Linked DNA regions of Homo sapiens. The protein of the gene in region 2 interacts with the protein of the main gene of each other region in a pairwise test. Each region holds a gene or a part of one and is shown on either strand. Other genes may lie near its edges. The genes, in order: TCEANC, KATNBL1 and ZC2HC1C.

Region 1 (3,611 bases), on a different chromosome or scaffold from region 2:
CATTTTATATGTTCTTTTATTGACCTTTTCTTCATATTTCTTTAAAAAATTTTAATTGTGATAAAATATACAAAACATAAAATTTACTGTGTTAAGCCCTTTTTTTTTTTTTTTTTTGACAGAGTCTCGCTCTGTCGCCAGGTTGGAGTGCAGTGGCATGATCTCGGCTCACCGCAAACTCTGCCTCCCGGGTTCAAGCAATTCTCCTGCCTCGGCCTTCCGAGTAGCTGGGACTACAGGTATGCGCCACTACATCCAGCTAACTTTTTGTATTTTTGGTGGAGACAAGGTTTCACCATGTTGGCCAGGATAGACTCGATCTCTTGACCTCATGATCCACCCACCTTGGCCTCCCAAAGTGCTGGGATTGCAGGTGTGAGCCACCACGCCCAGCCTGTCTTAAGCCTTTTTAAGTATACAGTTCAGTAGTGTTATGTACATTCTCGTTCCAGAGGGGAGGTGGGTAGAAGGTGATTGATTCATTGCTCATACCATTTTTCAGTAGGTATATCTTAAGTGCATATAGTTTATCATGAAATTGCGTTAGACCAATAACTTTTCTGATTATGAAAGCAATACATGCTCATCACAGAAAATACAGAAGAGGAAAATAACAAATGAAAATTACCTAAAATCTTACCATTCAGAAAATGCCCCTCTTTAAAATTTTGTGTATCTCTTTTCAGTCTTTTCACATGTAATTCTTAAATAAAATTTGGATCAAATTCTATTTTTAAATAACACCTTTATTCAGATGTAATTCACGCACCATACAGTTCACCTAAAGTGTACAATTCAGTGTTTTTTAGTATACTCAGTTGTATAACCCATCACCACAAATAAATCTTGAGAAGATTTATGTGTGCCACCACCTCCCAAGAAAATCCCTGAACTTTATCAGCTGCTCCTCCTCCTTCACCCCACTGCCCTTCTGCCCTACCCTACCTAGTCAACAACTGATCTATTTTCTGTCTCTATAGATTTGCCTGTTTTGGACATTTCATGTAAATAAAATCATACAATATGTGGACTTTTCTGTCTGGCTGCTTCTGCTCAGCATAATGTTTTCAAGGTTCATCCATGTTGTAACTGTATCAATACTTCATTCCTTTTCATGGCAGAATAATATTCTGTTGTGTGGATAAATCACATTTTATTTATCCATTCATCAGTTGATGGACATTTCGATTATTTCCCATTTTTGGCTATTGTGAATAATACTGCTATGAACATTTGTATACAAGTTTTTGTGTGGACATATGTTTTCATTTCTCTTGGATCTGCTGGGTCATATGATAACTGGTTTATTCATTTATTTATTATTATTTTTTTTTAGACAGAGTCTTGCTGTGTTGCCCAGGCTGGAGTGCAGTGGCACGATCTTGGCTCACTGCAAACTCCGCCTTCCAGGTTCATGCCATTCTCCTGCTTCAGCCTCCCAAGTAGCTAGGACTACAGGTGCCCGCCACCACACCCGGCTAATTTTTTGTATTTTTAGTAGAGATGGGGTTTCACCATGTTAGCCAGGATGGTCTCGATCTCCTGACCTCGTGATCTGCCTGCCTCGGCCTCCCAAAGTGCTGGGATTACAGGGTGAGTCACCATGCCCGGCCCATATGTTAACTGTTTAGTCTTTTATATAGTTTTACATCTTGATTGTTTTTCACCTAACTTTATGACCATTTTTCCATGTCGTTAAATATTATCTAAATACATGATTTTTAAATGGTTATATTACTGTATCCTAGGAGTGTGCCATATTTTTAACCATTCTCCATTTAACCATTTGAGGGCCTTCTAATTTCTCCTTAGAAGAAAATTCTTACATATGCAGTCTCCACATCTCTCATTTCCTTAAAGTAAATTTATGGAAGTAGAATTACTAAAAGGTCATTATGTTTTATGTCACTTGTCATATGGTGTCTGGGAAGACTGCGTGAATTCTCTCTCTAAACACTTCAGTGTTCTTAGCCTGTGTATGTTCGGTGGTGATTATTTAATATCAAGTGCTATAAAACAGAGCCCATGGATTTTTGAAAAGACACAGTCCCTGCCATCAAGATGCTTATGTTCACATTTAGACCAGACAGATAAATATAGATCCAAGGGTATTATATAGACAAGATTATGTACATTATGTGGAGGGAAAAAATAGACTGCATAGATAAAAGTAAACATTTGCCTGCCTAGGATGAAATTCACACAGACATAATCATTGAGCAACTCTTTACACTTAAAAATTTTTTAAAAATTAACAAAACCAAAATGTAAGAACCAGTTAGTCTAAAGTCATAAATCATCTGGATCATTGAGTCTGAACCTTTCCCTTGTTCAGAAGACTCCTAAGGCAGCACAGTGTAGCCTGTTGGCTTTTGGGACCCGCAGACGTATCTCTAGCTGCTTTTCAACCTGTGCTGTCTCACATTTTCCTTAGATTGCTTGAGACATTAGCAAACCCTTTCTGTCTTGTTTCTCTTTTATTTTCAGAAGAGTACCACTTTAAAGATTATGAAATGAGCAAGTAGTTCAGTTATATAGCTGACTCTGGGGAAAAATTGTCTAGCACTGTTCAGCATTGCCATATTGATGCTGACACCGGCATGATTTCACCTCCAACATGACCACCGGATTCCGCCCAAATGGATTGACTAATCTAGAAAGATCATTGATTTGTAAAATTGGAGGTGGAAAAGCTATAGCAGATCCTCCGGCAAGCCTCTTAAGCAGATGTTATGTAGAGGCTCTGCAATGCTGTTTGTTTGTTTTTCACTCGTAGGAATTAAACTCTTGAGAGTAAACCATACCGTCACCTTAAAGATTCCATTTTCTAGCGTGTCGCATACATTTGTATTACATGACTCTTTCGGAAAACATTGCCTAGGTAACTGACAGAAAGTGCTATTTTAGTATCCAGAAGCTGCGACTAGCAACGGCAAACTTAAGAAAACTGAAACCTCTTTTTTCTTTGCAGCTGTAAAGATGTCTGACAAGAACCAGATAGCTGCCAGAGCTTCTCTTATTGAGCAACTGATGTCCAAAAGGAATTTTGAGGATCTTGGCAACCACCTTACTGAGCTAGAAACAATTTATGTGACTAAGGAGCATCTCCAGGAGACAGATGTGGTCAGAGCTGTGTACAGAGTCCTCAAAAACTGCCCCTCTGTGGCTTTGAAAAAGAAAGCCAAGTGTTTGCTATCAAAGTGGAAAGCTGTTTATAAGCAGACTCACTCCAAAGCGAGGAACAGCCCTAAATTATTTCCTGTGAGGGGTAATAAAGAAGAAAATTCAGGACCTTCTCATGACCCAAGTCAGAATGAGACACTGGGCATCTGCAGCTCGAATTCTCTGTCTTCCCAAGACGTTGCAAAACTCAGTGAAATGATTGTGCCTGAAAATAGAGCCATTCAATTGAAACCTAAGGAAGAGCATTTTGGGGATGGTGACCCTGAATCCACTGGCAAGAGATCGAGTGAGTTGCTGGATCCCACAACACCCATGAGAACTAAATGCATAGAGCTTCTTTACGCAGCTTTAACTAGTTCTTCCACAGATCAACCCAAAGCTGATTTGTGGCAAAACTTTGCAAGAGAAATTGAAGAGCATGTTTTTAC
Region 2 (3,679 bases):
TTATTTGACCCCGCCCATGTGCTGCTGATTGGCCCATTTTACAGAGTGCTGATTGGTCCACTTTACAGAGTGCTGATTGGTCCACTTTACAGAGTGCTGGTCTATTTTTACAGAATCCTGATTGGTGCATTTACAATCCTCTAGCTAGACACAGAGCACTGATGGGTGCATTTACAATCCTCTGGCTAGACAGAAAAGTTCTCCAAGTCCCCACCCAACCCAGAAACCCAGCTGGCTTCACCTCTCACCTACTCGGAACAACTCAAAGTTGATATCTCAAGGGTTTAATATTTCCTGAATGATGATTCATCACACCACTTTCTCTCTCTCTCTTCTTTTTTTTTTGAGATGGAGTCTTCCTCTGTCTCCCAGGCTGGAGTGCAGTGGCGCCATCTCGGCTCACTGCAACCTTCGCCTCCCGCATTCAAGAGATTCTCGTGCCTCAGCCTCCTGAGTAGCTGGGATTACAGGTGCGTGCCACCACGCCCAGCTAATTGTTTTTTTTTTTTGTATTTTTAGTAGAGATGGGGTTTCACCATATTGGCCAGGCTGGTCTCGAACGCCTGACCTCTTGATCCACCTGCCTCAGCCTCCCAAAATGCTGGGATTACAGGCGTGAGCCACCACGCCCCGCCCACCACTTTCTCTTAATTCAGTTTTCCACAGTAAGCTGATTTGAGAAATAACGTCAAACTCGGGAAAGCAGATCAAGCATGAAAATAAAGACAGATGTCTGGAGATTCAGTGGGTACAATACTATATCATTTCAATCAATTTGGATCAAACTGAATTCCAACTCTCTTATGACTGAGATACCCTGAAATAAAAATTACAAAAGAGATGCCAAGTGGGAATTAGCTTTCCTACTACCTCTTCCTCAGTGTTTTTGTTTTGTTTTGTTTTGTTTTTTGAGACAGCGTCTTGCTCTGTCGCCAGGCTGGAGTGCAGTGGCGCCATCTCAGCTCACTGCAACCTCTGCCTCCCAGGTTCAAGCGATTCCCCTGCCTCAGCCTCCCAAGTAGCTGGGATTACAGGTGCACACCACCACACCTGGCTAATTTTTTGTATTTTAGTAAAGACAGGGTTTCACCATGTTGGCCAGAATGGTCTCGATCTCCTGACCTCGTGATCTGCCCTCCTCGGCCTCCCAAAGTGCTGGGATTACAGGCTTGAGCCACCACACCCGGCCTCTTCCTCAGTTTTAATCAAGTCCACTTAGATTACTACATTAGGGAACTGGGACTAATAATGGGAAAATAAAATTAAAGAACTAGGTAGATGTTTATCACCATCCATAGTTGTGGACCTACACAGGCTTTTTAAAAAACATAACTATGCCTTATACTGGAAAGTAGGGAGAAAAAAGTAAGGTAGCAAAACACTATGTTACCACTTAGGTTAAAAAGTGTGTGTCTGTGAGGGACTACTTGTATATTCACTAAATATCTTTTGAAGGATATGAGAGAAACTGGGGACAAAAGTCACTTCTAGTGAGAGGATATGTGTGGCTAGGGGGTGAAGGGAGAAGACTTTTCCCTTTTGGGCCTTTTGAATTTTGTATAATGTGCAAGTATGTTTTAACTTAATTATAATGTATTAGAGTATTATATACATATTTTCTTAAATGGCTATAAAACACCTGAATCTTTGGGAAGACTTAGGACTTCTTACGCCTAGAAGTAGATGGTTATGATTATTCTAGCATGTTTTGGTGAATTCGCCAAATTCCAATTTACTTTCCCTGTTAGAATAACCCAGTATTTTCTGGAAATATTCAACAGGGAGGAAAAAATACTTGATTCTGTTTTAATTGTCTTCTTGGACTCAGAAATGGAAAATATATATACAACTGGCCCTCTGTATCCGTGGGTTCAGCATCTGTGGATTCAATCAATTCCCAATCAAAACTATTTAGAAAAAAAATACATCTCTACTGAATATGTAGACTTATTTTTCTCATCACTATTCCCCCAATAATACAGTATAACAACTATTTACATAGCATTTACATTGTACTAGATATTACAAATAATTTAGAAATTATTTAAGGTGTATGGGAGGATGTGCAAAGGTTATGTGGAAATACTACACCACTTTATATCAGGGATTTGAGCATCCTCGGATTGTGATATCATTGGGAGGTCCTGGAACCAATCGCCCATAGATAATGAGGGATGAATGTATACATACATAAAACATTGTCACTTTAAGGATCATTTTTGACCCTTGTTTGCCTACTAAAGGTATTTCTGATACTTTCAAAACCAATAGACTCTCTACATATGAGAGGATATACCAATAAAGTAGTATTCAACTCTCAAAATGATGAGCTAATATAAATTAATTAAAAAACTCTATCTTCATTATTTGGACTAATGTCACCACCCTACGACACTTGTGCCTAATTTCTACAGTACCAGAAGTCAACAGGGTTAAGTATACCCTAAGCCTTGGAAAAAAGGGTAGATCATCCTTTAAGAATTAACAAAAATGATACTAGAGACATTCAAAATCTTTTTATAACAACGGTTCTTAAACCTTTATGTTCCAAAACTTGTGAGGATTATATTACATCCCCAACAGTTACAGTGGTTGGGCACCACCATATCTCCTAGGCTGAAATCAGAACGTATATTAAGGTTTGAAAATGCCTCCTCTCTCAGGGAACACTTTCTTCTCCAACAGAAGAATCACTTGCAGGCTCAAGAAAATATGACTCCTGTGTCCAAGACTTAACTATAACAAAAATTAACATATTAACTTTCATTTAAGAATAAAATCTCGGCCAGGCGCGGTGGTTCACGCCTGTAATCTCAGCACTTTGGGAGGCCTAGGTGGGCGGATTGCCTGAGGTCCGGAGTTCGAGACCAGCCTGGCTAATACGGTGAAAACCCATCTCTACTAAAAATACAAAAATTAGCTGGGCATGGTGGCAGGCACCTGTAATCCCAGCCACTGGGGAGGCTGAGGCAGAAGAATTGCTTGAGCCCGGAAGGCGGAGGTTGCAGTAAGCCAAGATCACGCCATTGCACTCCAGCCTGGGCGACAGCAAGACTCTGTCTCAAAAAAAATAAAAATAAATAAATAAAATCTCTCATCATACTGTTTCACCTAAACTCTGGATTCAAATCTCCAACTGCCTACTAGCCAGCTCCACATGGATATCCAATAGTCATCTATTCTTGAACTTAACATATTAAAAATAGAACCCTTAATATCCCCCCTCTCAAATCTGCTCCTCCCAACAGTCCCTAACTCAGTAAACGGAACCATCCTCCTTCCAATTTCTCAAGCCTGAAATAAAGGATTCATCCTTGATTTCTTTTTTCCTTAATAACCTACATCCAATTTGTTGACTTTGCCTTTATAATATATTCCCAAGCTGTCCGTTTCTTTCCATTTCCATTACCACCATTCTAGACCAAACCACCAACTCCTTTAGACTATATAATAGCTTCCTAAATGCTTCAGCCACACTGGCCTTCTGTCCTTCAACATTTCAAACTTATTTCCATTTTGTGGCTGAGCCATTCTTTCTGCTTAAAATATTCCTCCCACACACTCACCACCCAATCAAGAATAACCCCACCCTCACTTACAATCATTCTCTATAGCAGTACCCTGTATTTTTCCCCCACCACATTTATCACCATCTGGAAATTAGCTTATGCACTTATTG
Region 3 (3,679 bases), on a different chromosome or scaffold from region 2:
AATTAAGTTTGGAATTCTTTTTCTGCCCATTTAGAATGTAAACACCTTGAAGGTAAAAAGGACTTTCTTTCTGGTTATCTTACAAACCATGCCCTTGCCAATTATTTCTCACTTTAGAAAAACCAGGTTGGAAAAAGTAAGGGTTTCGTGACACTTACATGATAAATTTAGGTGAACTTCATAGGCACATTTGGACATATCTGGAGAAGATTGTCTCATAAATGAATGACATGTCAAGGTTGTGCCACTTGGTTTATAAAATGGTTATTTCTCAAGGTGTGGCATGCTGACAAACTTTATTTTAGTAGTTTTAGTGTTTAGTGTTGTATTAGAAAAATTGATTCGTCGTTTAGTGTTATATTAGGAAAATATAACAATATATTAAGCCCCTGATTTCCAGGGATCATGAATTTACAGAAAAATATTAATTAGTTGTAAGGATGAAGTGAAAGTGCAGATGATTGAAGTTTGGGAAAGCGTAGATCATATGATCTCAGAGGCCCCATCTAGTTCTAATATTCCAGAAGAATAAGAGAGTGTCATTCTGTTTTCATTTCTTCCCAACCCTCCCTCCGCTGTGCTGGCACCTCTTGTCCATTGGCACTTTACAGTTTCTGTGTATTTGCTGGAGCCTTTAAAAACTCACATTTATATGATGGTTGTTAGAAGAAATTGTTTACAATTAGAGTTCTTTCTTTTAGTAGTTTGGAGAAATCACAAGGAAGTCCCATCCATGTTCAGAGATCATCTCCCTGAAATCTAGTTTCCAAAGAAGAAATCAGCATTTTGCTCTTGCAGATAATAATATGATCACCACTTACTGTTTTTTCCTGTTTTCTTTCAGTTCAACCCAGTAATCCACTGGGAATTCACTCTATGTCCCACTGTAGCGATTTATTTTTGGCCAGAGCCTAAAAGAATCTTGTGTTTCTTAAATTCGTAAATACAGTTACGGTGAAGCAAAATAATTAGGTTCCTGAGATCAGATGCTCCAGCTTTATGGCAACTAGTTTGTGGGAATGTGTGACATTGAGGACACCAAGACAGAAGGGACCTAGACTAAGATGCACCTGCACCACCCTGGTAATGTCTCAAATCTTATTCCACAGTGCTGTGCCTTTGGAAGCTGAGTGGTTGTACCTTCCTGTCATTCCTCTAGAGTACTCAAGAACAGGTGATTTTCCTGGTATCCTTTAATCTTCACGTAACTCCCAGCAGACGTACACCCTGTCTCTCTCCTGGACTGTAAGCATTTTTGAGGACAGGGAACATATTTTGTGCTTTGTGCTTAATAAGTGTTAACTGAATAGAATTTCAGTACAATGAGGAATAAAATTATAGGAATTAGAGTATAAGAAGTAAATTACTAAAGGATCTCATATACTTGAGGAACTTTCCCCTGATCAAATTCTTTGAGAGGAACTTTCCCCTGATCAAATTCTTTTTTTGAGACCGAGTCTCGCCCTGTTGCCCAGGCTGGAGTGCAGTGACGCGATCTCGGCTCACTGCAGCGATCTTGGCTCACTGCAGCCTCCACCTACCGGGTTCAAGCAATTCTCTGCCTCAGTCTCCTGAGTAGCTGGGATTACAGGTGCCCGCCACCACACCCAGCTAATTTTTGTATGTTTAGTAGAGACGGGGTTTCACCATCTTGCCCAGGCTGGTCTTGAACTCCTGACCTTGTGATCCACACGCCTCAGCCTCCCAAAATGTTGGGATTACATGCATGAGCCACCGTGCCTGGTCTTCGAATTCTTTTAAAGGTTCCTGGATACCATCGCTAATACTCTCTTGCCTTCTTGTCTGTTTTGGCAAGAGACTTTCTGGAAGGATCCTTTCTTTTCCTTTGATAGTATCTCTTCCTATTATTCATCATTAACAATGCCAGATCACCAAGAGCTAGTTGTCTTTTTTCTCTTTAAAAAATTTAATAGTGTTTGCATGCATTTAAAAAACATGTAGTACTGAATGACCTATAATGGAACCCCTAATTCAGCCCCCGGAGGCAGCCTTCAGTTCTGTTAGATGGTTCTTCTGGTCTGCCTTTCCATATTTCCAAATAATATGCTTATTTTCTTGATTTATCAATTTTCTACATTACCTGTTTTTTTTTGTTTTGTTTTGTTTTTTTTGAGACGGAGTCTCTGTCGCCCAGGCTGGAGTGCAGTGGCTTGATCTTGGCTTACTGCAACCTTCACCTCCCGTGTTCAAGCAATTATTGTGCCTCAGCCTCCTGAGTAGCTGGGCTTACAGGCGAGTGCCACCACGCCCGGCTAATTTTTGTATTTTTAGTTAAGACAGGGTTTCACCAAGTTGGCCAAGTTGGTCCTGAACTCCTAACCTCAAGTCATCTGCCCACCTCGGCCTCCCAGAGTGCTGGGATTACAGGCGTGAGCCACGGTGCCTGTTCTACCTGGTAACTTCTTATGGAAGCTGGGAGTGAAGTTCTCTTTCATATTCCCTCTCTCCTACTGTTCTCTTTCTCTTATCCTTCCACTGTAGTCGAATCACAATTTTTGGTTAAAAGTAGTTAGCTTTCACATTGTAATGATCAAGTAAATTTTGTTCATTAATGAGTGAACAAATTCTGTCTCTGCCCACATGTACCTAAAATTAATAATGGACGTATGTTTTCATTTCCTTCATTTTCTACATACCTGTCTTTTTCTCCCCCGCAACGATCCATCTGATATCAGACATCTGTTAACGTTTTTGTAATGCTCAAACACCTCTCATAATCTATCAGTTTGATTTTTTAATTCTGAAAACCTCCCTTCAGCCACTCTGATCCCTTCTGCTCCAACCTGGACTGGGTATTCTCTAGGCCTGGTGCAAACTCATTCTCTTGGAACTTCTCTTTGCTTCTCTTCTTTGTTGGGTCCTCTGTTTCCAGCATCCTGTGTCTTCCTTTTTCTTGCATTACTCCTTCCTTTGCTGAAGCTTACTAAGAAGGGTGCATAGCAGGTATATTGTCTTGGAATGAATGACACTATCTATATGACAGGCTCCCATTTGATGATTTGGCTAGGTACAGAATTCTAGGAGGAAAATGATTATCTGTTAGAACTTTTAAAGTATTTCCCACTAGCTTTTAGCATCCAGTGTATTGTTGTGAAATCTAATGCCATTTTGATTCCTGTTCCATTACAAGAAACCTTTTTTTTTAAAAGGCTACGGGATTCTCTATTTATTTTGAAATTCTGAAACTTTACAATAATTGTGCTAGATACTTGGTAAGCCATTTCAATCTCAAAATGTGTGACCTTTAATTCTAGGAATGTTAATTGTATTATTTCCTTAATAATTTTCTCCTCACCAGGTGCTGTGGCTCACGCCTATAATCCCAGTACTTTGGGAGGCTGAGGCAGGTGGATCACCTGATCTCATGTGTTCAAGACCAGCCTGACCAATATGGTGAAACCCCATCTCTACTAAAAATACAAAAATTAGCCGGGCGTGGTGGCGCACGCCTGTAGTCTCAGCTACTTGGGAGGCTGAGATAGGAGAATCGCTTGAATCTAGGAGGCTGACGTTGCAGTCAACCAAGATTGCGCCACTGCACTCCAGCCTGGGTGACAAAGCAAGACTCCATCTCAAATAACAACAACAACAAAAACAAAACAAAACAAAACAACAATAATTTTCTCCTCGTGCTTTCTCTGTTCCTTCTGCAACTCTT

The links.
Region 1: the proteins of KATNBL1 (region 2) and TCEANC interact in binary tests that used the Homo sapiens proteins (3 or more experiments, as listed by UniProt).
Region 3: the proteins of KATNBL1 (region 2) and ZC2HC1C interact in binary tests that used the Homo sapiens proteins (3 or more experiments, as listed by UniProt).

Annotation. Positions count from the first base shown.
Region 1 is NC_000023.11:13,659,530-13,663,140, forward strand, and holds part of TCEANC (transcription elongation factor A N-terminal and central domain-containing protein), read left to right. Parts: intron 1-122; 5' UTR 123-157; coding exon of another isoform or gene 158-239; intron 240-1,501; 5' UTR 1,502-1,593; intron 1,594-2,971; coding exon of another isoform or gene 2,972-2,979; coding exon 2,980-3,611.
Region 2 is NC_000015.10:34,199,926-34,203,604, forward strand, and holds part of KATNBL1 (KATNB1-like protein 1), read right to left. Parts: intron 1-3,679.
Region 3 is NC_000014.9:75,072,462-75,076,140, forward strand, and holds part of ZC2HC1C (zinc finger C2HC domain-containing protein 1C), read left to right. Parts: intron 1-3,679.